Regions from separate parts of the Homo sapiens genome. Here region 1 is linked to region 2. Evidence: fine-mapped expression QTL. A gene starts in region 2. The other region holds a variant in brackets. All regions are shown on one strand. Distances are from middle to middle. Region 1 overlaps DRAXIN (dorsal inhibitory axon guidance protein). Region 2 holds the start of MAD2L2 (mitotic arrest deficient 2 like 2).

Region 1 (9,154 bases), 37 kb after region 2:
TGACTCCACACCTGGCAGCCCCCAGCTGTTCTACTGGCTCTGTCTGGGAGGAGACCTCACACCACCTTCGCTCTTCCCATGGTCAATCAGTACCCCATCTGAGGCAGCTGGGGTCTCTGCCACCGACCCTTGGGGGCCTCGGCCATGACATCTCCCTGTGGTTCCACTCAGGAGCCTTGCACACCAGATGGCCCACCCCGCCAGGGCGCGGCCTGCCACAGAGATGATGGATCTCTTGTCCAGTGGGACCGAGTGCAGGGCTGCGGGGAGGGGCGGCTCAGCTTGGCTGACTGCGTGTGCTCTCTGTGTTGGCAGGGACTTGCTGCGACCTGCGGGAGCATCTCTGCACACCCCACAACCGAGGCCTCAACAACAAATGCTTCGATGACTGCATGTGTGTGGAAGGTGGGTCCAGACTCCTTTGCGGGGGGCTACCCATGCTCTGAGAACCACAAAGCCTCCCTTTCTCGAAGCGGCTTCTGCACCGAGTGGGGAACAAGCTTTCCTGGCAGAGGGTGGATCATGGGCCTGCGGCGGGGGTGTAGGTGGGAGAATCCCTCGGGAGCCGAAGACGTGAGCAAGAACAGCTTTATCAGTGCCTTCCCAATCTGTGAACTCATTTAGTCCTGATTCTTGGCATCATTTCTGAGATTTGCTTTTCTCAACTTTTGAAATACAAGCTGGCACAATCTCCCACTATCTGGAAGAGGGAGAAGGGAGGAGACAGGAGCACATCTCTTTAAATTAGATCCAGCCTCAGAAGGCTGCCGCTTTCACACCAGAATTCTATCCCAGAGGAGGCATTGAAGTGTGATAATGGGGTGGGGGTGGGTTTCCCAGCATGTCCCAGGGAAGGATGCACTTGCCCAGCTGCCTCTTCAACTCCTCCGTGCCCCCACCTCGCCTAAGTGTGCTGGGCTCTGTGCTGAGCACTTTTCTACTGAAATCCCCATGACCACCCCTAGAAAGGAGCTATGATGATCCGCACTGTACAAATAAGCCAACTGGGGCACAGAAAGCTTAATGATGCCCAAACTTACACAGCCAGGAAAGTGGGGGGAATAGTTTCAGGTTTTTGTTTTGTTTTGACAGGTTTTACTCTGTCACCCAGGCTGGAGTGCAGCAGTGCAGTTTTGGCTCACTGCAACCTCTGCTTCCCAGGCTTAGGTGATCCTCCCATCCCAGCCCTGCAGGTAGCTCTGACTACAGGCGCATGCCACCAGCCCAGCTAATTTTTGTATTTCTGGTAGAGGCAGAGTTTTGCCATGTTCCCTAGGCTGGTTTCAAACTCCTGACCTCAAGCGATCCACCTGTCTTGGCCTCCCAAAGTTCTGGGATTACAGGCATGAGCCACCACACCCAGCCAGTTTCAATTTTGTATTCTGCAAAGTTTCAAATATATACTAAAGTAGTTAGAATAGTCTAATGAGCGCCCATTTCTCATCACTCTGCTTCAATACCAACTCACGGCCAATCTGTGTCTATCATCTCTCACACACTTTCCTTATTCCGACATGATTTCTAAGCAACTCCTGGGAGCTTACAGGTATTTCACCTGTGAATATTTTAGTGTGTACCTCTGAAAGACAAGTACTCTTTTAAAAACAAAATGCCAAACATGAACGATAATTAATCAGTTCCATCCAATATCAAATCAGCATTCACACATCTCCTGGATGGGGGAATTGGGGCTCAGCCCCTCTGTGGACCTGAGATACATGCCCCGTTTTGCTCATATTAGCCTCAGAGAGTTATCTACCATGATCGTGCCACTGCACTCCGGCCTGGATGATGGAGCGAGACCCTGTCTTAAAAATGATGATAATACATCTTTTTCTTCCCAATTTTTAAAATTGTGGACTTTTAAATTTAATTTAATTATTTTTTGAGACAGGGTTTCACTCTGTCACCCAGGCTGGAGTGCAGTGGCGCAATCCCAGCTCTCTGTAGCTTTAACTCCCGGGCTCAAGGGATCCTCCCGCCTCGGCAATAAAGCTATGTAGTTCTGATTATTCACTCATCTAATCAGTTAAATATTTAGGGAGCACCTACTGCGTATCAGACATTGCTCTGGACACTGGGGGGTTCAGTAGTGAAAAGAACCAGCAAGTTCTGTGCCCATGAATTACATTCTAGTGATATGAGCAGACAACAATCAAATACATAGATAGTATGTCTTTAGAAAATAATAAGGGCTATGGCCGAGCATGGTGGCTCATGCCTGTAATCCTAGCACTTTGGGAGGCCGAGGCAGGAGGATCACTTGAGGTCAGGAGTGAGACCAGCCTGGCCAACATGGTGAAACCCTGTCTCTACTAAAAATACAAAAATTAGATGGGCATGGTGGCACTTGCCTGTAATTCCAGCTACTCGGGAGCCTGAGGCATGAGAATCGCTTGAACCCGGGAGGCAGAGATTGCAGTGAGCCGAGATCCTGCCATTGCACTCCAGCCTGGGTGACTGAGTGAGACTCTGTCTCAAAAAGAAAAAAAAAGTAAGTAATAAGGGCTATAAAGATAATAATATGATAATGAGTCCTACAGTTGTTTTAGAAAGGGTAGACAGAAGTGGGCATTGGAGGCCAGGGGAGTGGTTCATGCCTGTAATCTCAGCACTTTGGGAGGCCAAGGCGGGCAGATCATGAGGTCAGGAGTTTGAGACCAGCCTGACCAACATGGTGAAATCCCATCTCTACTAAAAATACAAAAATTAGCCGGGTGTGGTGACGCGCACCTGTAATCCCAGCTACTCAGGAGGCTGAGGCAGGAGAATCTCTTGAAACCAGGAGGCGGAGGTTGCAGTGAGCTGAGATCGTGCCTCTGCACTCCAGCCTGGGCAACAGAGAGAGACTCCGTCTCAAAAAAAAAAAAAGAAAGGGTAGACAGAAGTGGGCATTGGAGGCCAGGCGGGGTGGTTCATGCCTGTAATCCCAGCATTTTGGGAGGCCAAGGCAGGTGGATCCTTGAGCCCGGAGTTGGAGACCAGCCTTGGCAAGGTAGAGAGACACTGTCTCTACCAAAAATACAAAAAAAAAAAAAAAAATTAGCCGGGTGTGGTGGCGCACACCCATAGTACCAGCTACTTGGGAGGCTGAAGTGGGGAGGATCACTTGAGCCCAGGAGGCAGAGATTGCAGTGAGCCGAGATCTTGCCATGCCACTGCACTCCAGTCCAGGCAACAGAGCAAGACCCTGTCTCAAAAAAAAAAAAAAAAAGGGAGGCCCGGCACGGTGGCTCATGCCTGTAATCCCATCACTTTGGGAGGCGGAGGTGGGCAGATCACTTGAGGCCAGGAGTTCAAGACCAGCCTGGCCAACATGGTGAAACCCCATCTCTGCTAAAAAAAAAAAAAAAAAATACAAAATTAGCTGGGTGTGGTGGCGCATGCCTGTAATCCCAGCTACTCGAGAGGCTGAGGCAGGAGAATCACTTGAACCCAGGAGGCAGAGGTTTCATAAGCCAAGATGGTGCCGCTGCACTCCAGCCTGGGTGACAAGAGCAAAACTCCATCTCAAAAAAAAAAAAAAAAAAAGCAATGGCTCTCCATAGGATGTTTTACAGGGAAGGGCAGAATTTGAGCCACTTAAAAAAAAATTTAATAACCTTTTTCCTTTCCAATTTTCAAGATTATAGACTTTTTAATTGAATTTATCTGTGTATTTTATTTTTTAATTTTTTTGAGACAGAGTCTCACTCTGTTACCCAGGCTGAACTACAGTGGTGCAACCAAGGCGCACTGCAGCCTGGAACTCCTGGGCTCAAAGGATCCTCTCATGTTAGCCCCTCCTTCCTATAGTTGGGACTACAGGTGTATGCCACAATGCCTGGCTAATTTTTACATTTTTTGTAGAGATAGGGTCTCCCTATGTTGCTTAGGCTGGTCTGGAACTACTGGGCTCAAGCGATCCTCCCACCTCAGCCTCTCAAAGTGCTGGGATTACGGGTGTGAGCCACCGTACCCTGTGGACTTTATTTTTAGAGCAGTTTTCTAGAAAAATTTCACAGAATGTGGTTCTCATATACCTGCTTTGCCCCTGCATGCAGTTTCTCCTATTAATAACATCTTGCAATCATGTGGTAGATTTGTTTGTTTGTTTGTTTGTTTGTTTGTTTTCTGAGAGGGAGTCTAGCTCTGTCGCCCCAGCTGGAGTGCAGTGGCATGATCTTGGCTCACTGCAAGCTCCACCTCCCGGGTTCATGTGATTCTCCTGCCTCAGCCTCCCAAGTAACGGGGATTACAGGCACCCACCACCATGCCCGGGTAGTTTTTGTATTTTTTTAAGTAGAGACGGGGTTTCACCATGTTGGCCAGGCTGGTCTCAAACTCCTGACCTCAAGTGATCCACCTGCCTCGGCCTTACAAAGCGCTGGGATTATAGGCGTGAGCCACCGTGCCCGGCCTCTCTTGGTACATTTGTTGCTTGACAAACCAATAGTGATGTATTATTATTACTAACTGAAGTCAACGTAAGTTATAGTTCACTGTGCGGTGCATTCTGTGGGTTTTGACAAATGCATGCCATGTCCCACCATTACGTGTCACACAGAATATGTTCACCGCCCCGACCGCCCTGAGTCTTCTCTGTTCTCCTTCCGTGTTCATTCCTCCCCTCTTCCGGGTTCGTGTCTTTTAAGCTCATTGGGGCTGCCGTGAGGAAGCTGGGTTGTAGGGCAGAATAATGAAGGCAGGAGGGAGCTGGCTGGCCCCGAGCGTGCAGGGGAAGGAAGGGGAGGGCACGGGCCCTTCGCGCCTCTGACCCCCCTTGCCTCCACTCGCCCAGGGCTGCGCTGCTATGCCAAATTCCACCGGAACCGCAGGGTTACACGGAGGAAAGGGCGCTGTGTGGAGCCCGAGACGGCCAACGGCGACCAGGGATCCTTCATCAACGTCTAGCGGCCCCG[C/T]GGGACTGGGGACTGAGCCCAGGAGGTTTGCACAAGCCGGGCGATTTGTTTGTAACTAGCAGTGGGAGATCAAGTTGGGGAACAGATGGCTGAGGCTGCAGACTCAGGCCCAGGACACTCAACCCCAGGAGGGGAGCCGCTCGGCGAATGAGCTGGGTGGGTGCCCAGGAGCCGGCCCGCAGCACCTGCACACACGAAGTCCGGACCCACGCAGCCTCCATCCCGCGTGTCTTGCTCTCCGCGATGGCAATGCCGAGAGTGCCCTCTACTGTCCGACTCCAGCACTGCAACAGCTTCAAGTTCAAAACCAAGAGGCGTTTTTGAGAGTGGAAAAGAAATTTAAACTTCCCGAAAGAAGGTCCACCATCAGGAGATGAATATGGAACATCTCCTATGTACCAGGCACTGTGCTAAGTGCTGGAATACATTATCTCATTGAATTATCACAACGACCTTTTCAAGTAGGCATTATCACCATGCGACAGGTTGAGGACCGTGAGGCACGCTGGAGTTATTTGACTCGACTTGCCCAGGGTCCCAGGTCAGTGCTCCTCAAACCTGAACATGCTAAGAGTCACCTGGAGGTCCAGTTAAAAATGTACATCTGGCCGGGCGCGGCGGCTCACGCTTGTAATCCCAGCACTTTGGGAGGCCAAGGCGGGTGGCTCACCTGAGGTCAGGAGTTCGAGACCAGCCTGGCCAACATGGGGAAACCCCGTCTCTATTAAAAATACAAAAATTAGGCCAGGCGCGGTGGTGCACACCTGTAATCCCAGCTACTCGGAGGCTGAGGCACCAGAATCGCTTGAACTTGGGAGGCAGAGGTTGCAGTGAGCAGAGATCGTGCCACTGCACTCCAGCCTGGGGGACAAGAGTGAAACTCCATCTCAAAAAAAAAAAAAAAAAAAAGCACATCTGACTCAGTGGGCTCTGTGCTCTAACAAGCTCCCAGGGAACGCGAGGCTGCTGGCCCAGGGACCCACTGAGAGGTCCTGGGAAGTACATGGCAGAGCAAGGACATGAACCTGGGCCAAGGCTGTCCAGCTCCAAGGCCCACGTTCTTGCTGCTCCACAGCCAAGAATTTCTTCCAGATTCTCTAAGGCTTTTGGCAAGAGAGGCTCACACCCTGGTATTCCCTTCCTCTGTGGCTGGAATAACTTGACTGTTCTCTGCCTTCCCTGGATAAAGGTGTATCATGTTTAAAAACAAAACAAAATACAACTTAAGCACATACTTGCTTGCAGGAATAAGTTGGGCAGGTTGATCCCTGTGGTCTAGTAGCTGATATCCTGGGATAAGAAGTGTTTGGGGAAAAGAATCATGTTGGCCTTTATGTCCCTGTGGTCCTGATCATCCAGTCCTGGACAGGCACTTTACAGTTTTCTGGAGCACTTCCCCCCCAGGGGTTCTGATGCAAGCATGGAATCCAAAAAAACCCCACACATATTGCCCATGTTTACCCACTTTGCATACTGTTTAGTGATTTCCAGGACCACAAAACCATCCCTGGAACCCCACCCCACATTTTTGCAGCAGAGCCCACTGGGAAGTTGAGGCTCACCTGAAATTGAGGTGCTATCTGAAGCTAACTGCCCCTAACAGGCCAGACTCACAATGCCCACCCAGGACATCTGTCCCAGCAGATCTGGCTTCAGGGGTCACTTCAGGAGAACCATTTAAATCCCCCCACTTGGCATCTCACTCCTGGCCAACCCTCTGTTCCAGGGCGAACCAGGTTGCAAATGACAAAAGACTTTCCTGGCCAAATTCCTCACTGGCCTGGATCACGCCCATAAGATGCCAGAGATGTTTACTGCGTTGGAAAAATCAGTCGGGGTCAGGGGTCAGGCACCAAGGAAAGCAGGCAGATCTAGAAGAAATTAAATATGCTTGTTCTCTCCCTATCCAAGTTTGATGGGCATGGGAACCTTGTGGGGAGGGAGCAGGGAGGGCAGGGGAACTGGGAGATCAAAGCAGGCTAGCTGAAAGGCAGATATGGCTAGACACAATGGCTCATGCCTGTAATCCCAGCACTTTGGGAGGCTGAGGTGGGCGGACCACCTCAGGTCAGGAGTTTGAGACCAGCCTGGCCAACATGGCAAAACCCGGTCTCTACCAAATATACAAAAATTAAGGCTGGGCACGAGGGCTCATGTCTGACATCCCAGCACTCTGGGAGGCCGAGGTAGGCAGATCACTTGAAGTAAGGCGTTCGAGAACAGCCTGACCAACATGGTGAAACCCCATCTCTACTAAAAATACAAAAATTAGCCAGGCATGGTGGCAGGTGCCTGTAATCCCAGCTACTCAGGAGGCTCAGGCGGGAGAATCACTTGAACCCAGGAGGCGGAGGTTGCGGTGAGCCAAGATCACGCCATTGCACTCCAGCCTGGGCGACAGAGTGAGACTCCAAAAATATAAAACACTTAAAAATGTAAAAAGGCAGATCTGCCAGCAGCTTCGTACTTGAGACCAGACAACCCACACATGCTGTGTGTGCCTCACATTAAGTGGTGACTCGGGACTGTGCTGGCTCTGTGGGGCTAGAACCCTAAGGAGTACCGCCGGAAGAAAGCCCAGCATTACTATGGCTGGGGGACAGCTGTTAGATGGTCCTAGGACATCAGCCATGGAGAACACAGAGGGTCAGGACAAAGCTAAAATGCCCATAGAACTGCCACTGGTTGCCAGGGTAGTTCCATGGTTGGAAATTCAAGGCCCGTCTCTTTGCCCTAGCTATCTCTATTTGACATTTCCAAAGAGGGATGGGTGGATGGAACCTCTTAACTCCAGAGCTGGGAATCCCAAAGCCCTCTCAAGTGTCTAACCAACCTCTCTGCCAGGAAGTTCTTCCTTAGGTCTATCTTAAATTTATTTTGCTCATACAGAAGCCAGTTTCCTCTAATCCAGGGTTTAGCAAACTTTTACTGTGAGGAGCCAAATAAACATTTTAGGATTTGCAAGCCATCTGATCTCCACCAGCTACTCAGCTCTGCCGTAGCTCGAAGCAGCCACAGAGAGTGTGTAAATGAATTCATGGCTATGCTCCAGGAAAACTATTTCTGGACACACATGTGAATTCTGTATACTTTTCACATGTCACAAAATATTATTCTCTCTTTCCTTTTTTTTTTTTTTGGAGATGGAGTTTTGCTCTGCTGCCCAGGCTGGAATGCAGTGGCTCAGTCTCAGCTCACTGCAACCTCTTCATCCCAGGTTCAAGCAATTCTCCTGCCTCAGCCTCCCAAGTAGCTGTGACTACAGGCATGTGCCACCACACCTGGTTAATTTTTGTATTTTTAGTAGAGATAAGGTTTTACCATGTTGGCCAGGCTGGTCTCAAACTTCTGACCTCAGGTGATCCGCCCGCCTCAGCCTCCCAAAATGCTGGGATTACAGGTGTGAGCCACCGCACCTGGCCATAAAATATTATTAGTTTAATTTTCTAAAACCATTTAAAAGTGCAAAAACTGCTCTTTGCTTGCCAACTGCGCAAAACCAGGCAGTGGGGCAGATTTGGCCTGAGGGTCACGGTTTGCCAACCCCTGCTCAAGCCTGCTCACTCTCAACGCTGGCTGCACGTTGCAATAATCCAGGAACATTCACAGGCCTGGGGCCCACCCACAAAGCTTCTGTTTTGTTTGGTCTGGGCTTCATAGTTTTTCTCCCAGGTAACTTCAGGTGCAGCTGGGGCGGAGAGTCTCTGCTCTCCCCTTCCATCTGTAGCAGTGTGGCTGGTGTTAAATCCACCTATTCCACCTCTCACAGCTTTGGCAACCTTAGGAAAGTTTCTTAAGGTCTCTGTGCCTTGATTTTTTCATCTGTAAAATGGGAATAATAACTCTCCCTTCATAGGGTTGTTGTGAGTAGTGAATGCATACTTCTTTTTTTTTTTTTTTCTTTTGAGACAGAGTTTCACTCTTGTTGCCCAGGCTGGAGTGCAGTGGCACGATCTCGGCTCACTGCGACCTCTGCCTCCTGGGTACAAGTGATTCTCCCGCCTCAGCCTCTCGCGTACCTGGGATTATAGGCAAGCATCACCACGCCCGGTTACTGTTTGTATTTTTAGTAGAGATGGGGTTTCACCATGTTGGCCAGGCTGGTCTCAAACTCCTGACCTCAGGTGATCCCCCCGTCTCAGCCTCCCAAAGTGCTGGGATTACAGGCATGAGCCAGCATGCCTGGCCTGTGAACGCAGAATTCTTATAAGGTGTTTAGAACAGTGCCTAGCACCTAATAAACCTCCAGTGTT
Region 2 (9,141 bases):
TCTCTACTAAAAATACAAAAATTAGCCGGGCATGGTGGCAGGCACCTTAGTCCCAGCTACTTGGCAGGCTAAGGCAAAAGAATCGCTTGAACCCGGGAGGCGGAGGTTGCAGTGAGCCGAGATCACGCCACTGCACTGCAACATGGGCAACAGAGCGAGACTCCATCTCAAAAAAAAAAAAAAAAACCAGAGGCTAAGAACTGTGAACTTATCCATAGAGAAAGAAGTTAGAAGATAAGAACTCAGGCTGGGCACAGTGGCTCACTCCTCTAATCCCAGCACTTTGAGAGGATGAGGTGGGTGGATCACCTGAGGTCAGGAGTTTGAGACCAGCCTGGCCAAAATGGCAAAACCCCATCTCTACTAAAAATACAAAAATTAGCCAGGTGAGGTGGCACCTGTAATCCCAGCTACTTGGGAGGCTGAGGCAGGAGAATCACTTGAACCTGGGAGGCGGAGGTTGCAGTGAGCTGAGATCAAGCCACTGCACTCCAGCTTGGGCAACAAAGCAAGACTCCATCTCAAAGGAAAAGAAAGATAAGAACTCAATCCCAATATGAGCATTTAATATACCATTAGGGGTTCTTAATGTGGGGTCCATGGACTCCTCCAGAGTCTGAAAAATCCCTAAAGTTGTATCTTTGTGCACTTGGGCATTTTTCCAGAAAAAGGATCCAGGAAAATGTAATCAGATGTCAAAAGTTAAGAACTAAGGAACTGTGTGGCCTCAGGCAAATTCCTTAACTTCTCTGGGCTTCAATCACTTCATCATAAAGAAGAAGTGAGTAAATGTCAATTGTTTTTTCCTTTCCCCTCTAAAGGTGACCTTCAACTTACTATGGGTTTATGTTTGGATAAACCAATCAAATATCGCCAGCGGAAAATGCAGTTAATACACATAACATACAGAACATCATAGCTTAGCCAGGCCTACCTAAACACACTCAAAACACATTAGCCCACAGTTGGGCAACATTATCTAACACAAAACCTGTTTCATAATAAAGTGCTCACGCCTGTAATCCCAGCACTTTGGGAGGCCAAGGCAGGTGGATCACCAGAGGTCAGGAGATCGAGACCAGCCTGGCCAACACGGCGAAACCTTGTCTCTACTAAAAATACAAAAATTAGCCAGATGTGGTGGCACACGCCTGTAATCCCAGCTACTCGGGAGGCTGAGGCAGGAGAATCACTTGAACCCAGGAGGTGGAGGTTGCAGTGAGCCAAGATCACGCCACTGCACTCCAGCCAGGGCGACAGAGCGAGACTCAGTCTCAAAAAATAAAATAAAATAAAATATAAAATAAAAAATAAAGTGCTGACTACCTCAAGTAATGTCTTGAATACCATACTGGAAGTGAGAAAACAATGGTGGTGTGGGGACTTGAAGCGGGGACCACCTGGATGTCCTTTGAGCTTCTACCACTTATTCTCATGTTTCCTGAGTGCCTTCCAGAGACAGGCACTTCTAGGGACTGGAGCTACAGTGCGATGCACACTGCTTTGTCTGCCTTTTAGCCTTAACCCATTGAGTTTAGGATAAATGGTAGGGAGAAGATTTGGAGGTTTTTGGAAATACCCTCCTCACACCAAGGTTCACCAGCTTCACGAGCTCCTTCAAAGTGCCACCATGCCCCCAGGGTAACTTTTTTTTTTGGAGACATAGTCTTGCTCTGTCGCCCAGGCTGGAGTGCAGTGGCACGATCTGGGCTTACTTCAACCTCTGCATCCCGGGTTCAAGCGAGTCTCCTGCCTCAGCCTCCCTAGTAACTGGGATTACAGGCGCGTACCACCACACCAGGCTAATTTTTGTATTTTTAGTAGAGACAGGATCTCATCATGTTGGTCAGGCTGGTTTCTTGAACTCCTGACCTTGTGATTCGCCCGCCTCAGCCTCCCAAAGTGCTGGGATTACAGGTGTGAGCCACCATGCCCGGCCACCCCCGGGGTAACTCTTATCAGGCCTGGTCCCTAACTTCTGGCAAGGGGAACTCTCTTCTGAGGGGTGGGTAGGCATCACCACTTTGGAACTGGAAGGCATTGGAAGGCATGGGCAGGGCCCTGCGGAATGAGGTGGCTTGGCCCGAAGTGGAAGAGGTTTTTTTTTTTTTTTTTTTTTTTTTTTGAGACGGAGTTTCGCTCTTGTCACCCAGGCTGGAATGCAGTGGCACAATTTCGGCTCACTGCAACCTCCGCCTCCTGGGTTCAAGGGATTCTCCTGCCTCAGCCTCCTGAGTAGCTGGGATTACAGGCCTTGGCCACCACGCCCGGCTAATTTTTGTATTTTTAGTAGAGACGGGGTTTCACCATGTTTGTCAGGCTGGTCTCGAACTCCTGACCTCAGGTGATCCGCCCGCCTCGGCCTCCCAAAGTGCTAGGATTACAGGCGTGAGCCACGGCGCCCGACCAAAGAATTTTTAAAAGTCCACCCTGTACCCACTCTGTGGTTCTGGGACGTGCCTCACCTGGACCGGCACGTTGTACTTCTTGCGTTTCTGGAAGATGCCCACGGGGTAGACCTCGCGCACGTAGAGGATGAGATGCACAGCCACCTCCAGGAACTCGCAGAGCACATCGGCCACCACTGCAGGGGGGCACAAGCCGGTGGCGCGCTCGAGGAAGCCCGCCGGCCCAGACGCCCCCGCCCCCGGGCCCGCAGGTCCAGCCTCCCTACCTTGGCCAAAGTTGAGGTCTTGTCGTGTGAGCGTGGTCATCCTTCCCGCTACCTGAGTGTTGGGGCAAGGGCAGAGGGTAGTTCCAGAGACCCAGGAGCCCAGAACCCGCTCGCTTCCACCGTCTCTTCCCTCCCCACAGTCTGTGGGAACTGGGGAAGGACCTCCCGCTTCGCACAGGCTCAGGGCAGCTGGAAGAACCTCCACCCCCACGCTGGCGTCCGTGCTTGGGGGCATCAGCCTCTATCCACTGGCCGCCCGCGCCCCCTCGCCCCGCTGTCTCGCGGGGTGGAAAGACCACAGCTGTGCCCCCGAAAAGGGCAGGGCCGCGGACGCAGAGGGAAACAGCGGGATGCCCAGGGCCGGGAGCGCAAAGCGGGACATGCGGAAAGCGAAGCGGGGTTGGAATAAGACTCCGCCCCCTGCTACGCCGGATCCCTCCCGGCGGGAATCCCGCCCCCTCTCCCCTCCCCCAGTACCGGCTCTGCGCTCGGTTCCCGCCCGAGATCGGGCCCGGCCCCGCCGCGGGGAGCCACCGACCGGACCGATCGCGCCTCCCGCTCAACCCGGGGCCTCGGCGCCGCTCGGTGACGTTCACGGCGCTCCGGTGGGTCCTAGCGCCCGCCCCGCCCAGGCCACGCCCATTCCCGCACGGCCCAAACCGGGCCTCGCAGAGGGCGGTTCCGCATGCGGGGGCGGGTCTCCGAGGGGCGGGGGCCGGGCCTCGGCGTCCGGGAGGGGCTGAGACCCGCCGCGCCACCTCCCTTCAACTTCGGGTGGGCGCGAAGAAAACACAACGTTGATCTCCACGTTCCATTGGATCGCTACATATCTTCCCCCGAGGGCATTTCTCTCGCTTTAGCAGGCGCCGGAAGAGGGCTGGGGAGGGACGGGGGAGCGCGCAGCTGGGGACTAACGGCAGCCACATCTGAGCTAGCCCGAGTCACCATCCCTGCAGCTGCCCACGCAAAAGCGAATCCTCTGGCTCGGGGGCGGGAACAGGGGAGGACAGGATTGTACCGGTTGTCAAGGCCCGGGTGAAATTTTAAAAATAAAAAAAAGAGGGCGTGCACCGGCGTCGCCCCTGCTCCGCCCCCACCGGGTACCTAAATGCAGCCTGGCCTGACCGCCCAAGAGGATGAACCCTCCCCGCCCTACGCTTCATAACAATAGCTGACCTTTTTGGAGCTCCAGCCGAGTGCTGGGCACTGGGCTAAGTGTGTCCGTGGATTATCTCAGTCCTGGGAGTAACTCCATGAGGCAGTTACTGTGACTGTTCTCTTTATACAGATAAGTCAAGCGAGGTGCAGAAGGGTGAATAACCTGCCCGAGTCTCCCAGCTGGTGGGGTGGGCGATGGCCGAGGTGCCTCCTGCCACTACATTTTACTGCTCCCAAGTCCCCCAGGGGCGTGGACTCGGTCTGGAAGTCCTGTAAGGGCCCTCAGAGATGATATTACTAAAATAATAAAAAATAATGACTAACATCGAGCACTTCTTATGTGTCAAACACTGATTCCGTTAATTCTCTCATTAACCCTAGCAGCTAAGTCTCCATTTTATAGCCCCACTTTACAGATGGTTAAACAGGCCCAGAAACGTTCTCTAATTCGCCAAAATCACACAGTGGGAATACAAACCCAGCTCTGATGCCTCTTCTGACACCAGGGCTTCCACTTATTTACAGCCCCCTTATTTTACAAGTGAGAAAACTAAGATCTGAGAAGCAGCTACGGAGTTAGTGGGCAACAAGTCAGGACCAGAAGCCAAGAGGACTTTGTCTGTGACCTCCAGGGACGTAAGAGCTTGTTAGTCCCATCCGTCTGTTTGGACACAGATCTAGCCAGACTTGTTTATCGTTTACAGCTCATTATAGAAGACCTGGATCCCTCCCCCCGCCCCCTGATGCCTTCAAACCTGCATTTCCAGACTTCTAATGGGGAGAGAAAAAGTAACCTGTAAGTAACCCATTAAGCTAGGAATGTCAGCAAAACATTTCTTCAAATGCAGTCCTAGGAAATCTGCATCAGAATCCCCCAGGAGCCCATTAATCACAGCTGCCCTGCTGCCTAGAGCAACCTGATCGAGGTGGGGTGCACAGCAGGGCACTGGCCCTTTAACAAGCTCCCCAGGGGCCCGGATGCCCAGCAAAGTGTGGGAATCACCACAGAGGTTTGGACTGTTCCCAGAGAATATCTTCATTTTGTAAAAATGCGATGCATTTTGTAAAATTGTGATGTAAAATCATCCATCCAAAGGGATGGATGATTTTGTTTTAGGAACTGGTGCACTTGGCAGCACATTCTGGGCACAGCAACCATTCTCAAGATATGGGGATCCTGCACACATCATGCCATTTCCACACAGAGCTGGCCAAGCAACTCACTGGCTTATACACAGAGTTCCGTGGCTCCTTGAGACTGACTCATTGCAGAACTTGGGAAAAGCAAGGGTCTTTCCTTTCCCTCTCTGGAGGCTGCTTAAGCAGCTTTTGCATTGGTGACAGGCAGTGGCAGTCATAGGGGGCAACTCCTTGCAAAGGAGCCCTTCAGACTGGGGCCTGGGGTGGGGAAACTGAGAGCCAAGTGACTCCTGTGGGATGGCCTTCAGGACACAGTGTGAGGGGCATTGGGGCTCAAGTCAGGCCCTCCCTCCATGAGCTCCCAGCCCCAGCCCTCTGCCCTGAGAAAACACAATACGAGCCACCCGTAGAACTCCTGACACACAGAGCTAAGAACGTCAGAAAAACCTTGGAGGACATAAACTCAACTGTCATTTTTCCTTGGGGAAACTGAGGTCCCAACAGCTCTTGACACTGGAGTACCCACCCTGTCAACTAGAAACCTGTGGATAAAAATATCTGGGTTTGCAAATATCATATGTTCTCACTTGTAAGTGGGAGTTAACCTATGAGGATGCAAAGGCATAGGAATGATATATTGGACTTTGGGGACTCGGGGGGAAGGAAGGGTGGGAAGGTGAGGGAAGGGTGGGAAGGTGAGGGACAAAAGACTACATACTGGGTACAGTGTACACTGCTGAGGTGATGGATGCACCAAAATCTCAGCAGTCACCACTAAATAACTTACCCATGTAACCAAAAATTATTGCAATTAAAAAAAAACGTCAGCTGGGCACGGTGGGTGGCTCACGCCTGTAATCCCAGCACTTTGGGAGGCTGAGGCTGGTGGATCACCTGAGGTCAGGAGTTTGAGATCAACCTGACCAACATGGAGAAACCCCATCTCTACTAAAAATACAAAATTAGCCAGGTGTGGTGGCGCATGCCTGTAATCCCAGCTACTCAGGAGGCTGAGGCAGGACAGTCACTTGAACCCGGGAGGCGGAGGTTGTGGTGAGCCAAGATCGCACCATTGCACTCCAGCCTGGGCAACAAGAGCGAGAACTCCATCTCAAAAAAACAAAAAAAGTCTGGGTTTGGGGCCTTGGGTTCAGATCCAATCACAAACAGAAGGAAGGTGGGTTAGGAAGCAGATGGGGAGGGATTCAAACCCATCTGACCCCAAACCCCTAAAAGGCTTCAGTCTCATTAGTGAAATGAACAGGCCAGATAGATGTTCCCTAAACCTCTGATGGCCTCAGGTTCCATGGGGGCGGGGGCAGGGGCAGGGGGCCGAGTCAGCATGGGCCCATCCGGGGAGCTCTGCCAACACTCCATCCATGCGCTCTTCAGCATCTGGTTTTGCATATCTTAATCGCATCAGCATGATGGATGGTTGTGGGATCCAGATTACATTATGGGGTTAATTTATTACATTTTTGAACATCCGTCTGCTGGGAGACTGTTGTTCAAAGTTATTTGCATATTTTTCACCATAATGACAATATGTAGGAGGGCGGCTGGGAAGGAAGGATGGGTGTTTAGGGGGAGCAAGAGTTTATTTGCCAACTAGAGCAGGTCCCTGAGGATCTCTGATGGGGACGGAGGGAAAATCACTCCCAAGAGACACTGAAATGGAAACTGAGAAGGTGAGCTGTGAGCACCAGCCCAGCAAAGAGGAAGACCTGCTCGGGCAGAGGAGGACTGCTGGGGTTTATGGAACAAACCCACAGTGAGTGAACCGGGCAATGAAGTTTCCAGACCCCAGAAATGATTCCAAGACCCCTCCCATCCCCACCAGGCTGATGGCAGAATGAATCAGCTCTCCCACCCTGCCTAAGGTTCCCAGGACACCAATCACATGGGTATGGGGGACATACAGAGTGAGACACACATAGCCTGGTGACAATCTCCTGATATCCTGACGCTCAGGGGCCCATCCAGTTGCAATGCTCCGGGGCAGGGACCCAGCCCTCATTCATTATTTCAATATAGTGCCTGGCCAAATTCAGGTTCTCTCTCTCTCTCTCTTTTTTTTTTTTTCCCAGAGACAGGGTCTCTCCTTGTCACCCAGGCTAGAGTGCAGTGGGGCAATCATAGCTCACTGCAGCCTGAAACTCCTGGGCTCAAGGGATCCTCCTACCTCAGCCTCTTGAGTAGCTAGGATTACAGGTGTGCACCACCACACCTGGCTGATTTTTCAAATTTTTTGCAGAGGCAGGGTCTCCCCATGTTGCCTAGGCTGGTCTCGAACTCCTGGGCTCAAGTGATCCTCCTGCCTCTCACCCTCGCAAAATGCTGAGATTACAGGCTTGAGCCACCATGCCCAGCCCGAATTCAGGTTCTCAGCAAATGTGTGTCAAATGAGTGAATGAAAGAATGAATGGCAGAGGAATGAAGTGATGGTGGACAGTGGCTCATTACCACTTGCCTGACTTGAATCCCAACTGAGTCTGGATGAGGAGCAAAACACGTCGACTTCAGTGCCCGGGCTATGGGTGGCACTATGCAGAGAAAAGCTATTTTCAAAAACAAAAGCAAGGGCTGTGGCATGTTCCCTATGGTGTCCCCAGCACCCACTGGGCCTGCTCATGTGTCCAACCTGCTGCTTCTCTCCCCAACACTGCCCCTTAACCAGCTGCGAGGCCCTTCTTTCTCTGAACCTCAGTTTGCTCATCTGTAAAATGGCATAATGGTAGTTCTAATTTCATAGGATTGAGCAAAGAGCAAATGTTTATGTCCATGTTCATGTTTATAAAAAATATAAAGTGCACAATGCCAGGCATGGTGGCTCACGCCTATAATCCCAGCTTTTTGGGAGGCCAAGGTGGACGGACCACTTGAGCTCAGGACTTCGAGACCAGCCTGGGCAACATGGCAAAAACTCTACAAAAAATATAAAAATTAGCTGAGCATGGTGGCGTGCACCTGTATTCCCAGCTACTTAGGGGGCTGAGGTGGGAGGATCACTTGAGCCCAGGAAATCAACGCTGCAGTGAGCCATGTTTGTACCACTGCACTCCAACCTGGGTTATAAAGTGAGACCCTGTCTCAAAAAATAAACAAATAAATAAAGTGCACAATGCCTGGCACATAAATGCTCAATTAATGACTGTTATGACAATGATATTAAGGTCTATATACACTATTTAAGCCCCCAGAACAAACCCTCTGGACAAGCTGTCACACTTTTCAAAACCCCATCCAAACCATCCTTAGCGGCATCCCCATAGCTCCATTTCCATTTCCCAAGGCAGCAGGCAACTCCCAAGGTGCCCTAGGGAGGACACGCATCATCACGGAACAAGATGCCTAAAGACAAGGACTTCCTGCTGACAGCTCCTCTCCGCTCTCATCTGCCTTCTGGTGTGAGGCCTGACCTGGACAGCTGTCCCAGATCCCAGGGTTCACTGCTGACCTGAGATGGCTTCCGACACTTCAGCCAGAGCAAAGCCCTCACCTGCCATTCCCTCCGTGGGGTTCTACTGATTCCCAGTGTTGCTGACCCCTCAGTGGTCAGGGGGACCTTACTGATCATCTGCTCTTTTTTCATAGAGACAGGGTCTCGCTGTGTTACCCAGGCTGGTCTTGAACATTTGGCCTCCAGAGTTCCTGCTTCAGCCTCCCAAAGCTCTGGGATTACTGGCATAAGCCACCGCGCCTAGCTAATTTTTTTGTACTTTTAGTACAGACGGGGTTTCGCCATGTTGGCCAGGCTGGCCTCGAACTCCTGACCCCAAGTGATGTGCCCGCCTCCACCTGCCAAAGTGTTGGGATTACAGGCTTGAGCCACTGCGCCCGGCCCAGAGACACTAAATGCCTTACACAACATCAGGAGTGTCCAGATATATTCAGAAGCCATCCTGGGCCACAAGGTAAGAACTTTTGATCCAGCTCAACTGCCACTTTAAAAAAAAAAAAAAAAAAAAAAAACTTCTCTGTGGAGATATAATTCACAAACCATAAAGTTCACATTTTCCCTGGGTACAATTCAGTGATTTTTAGTATAGTTACAATGTTGTACATCGCTACTCTCTAATTCGGAACATTTTCATCACTCCTGATGTCTTGAGAAGGGTTGTTCATGCCCAAAGTGTGTTGCCAGGTACATCAGTTCCAAAACTACTAAT

Evidence for each region.
Region 1: its variant is fine-mapped to the expression of MAD2L2 in whole blood (INTERVAL, PIP above 0.99).

Annotation. Positions count from the first base shown.
Region 1 is chr1:11,714,804-11,723,957 of GRCh38, forward strand. It overlaps DRAXIN (dorsal inhibitory axon guidance protein), which reads left to right. Exons shown (of 7, transcript NM_198545.4): 6 at 316-405; 7 at 4,781-9,154. The coding sequence ends at 4,893. Among named protein-coding and RNA genes, the nearest start is that of AGTRAP, 17 kb to the right of the region's middle. RefSeq lists an enhancer at 4,941-5,010. The variant C/T (reference allele first, on the strand shown) is at 4,902.
Region 2 is chr1:11,677,888-11,687,028 of GRCh38, forward strand. MAD2L2 (mitotic arrest deficient 2 like 2) reads right to left here and starts at 3,261. Exons shown (of 9, transcript NM_006341.4): 1 at 3,152-3,261; 2 at 2,675-2,726; 3 at 2,466-2,584. The coding sequence starts at 2,714. It also overlaps a transcript of DRAXIN not described here. RefSeq lists silencers at 2,583-2,642, 3,083-3,602 and enhancers at 5,226-5,807, 6,757-7,257.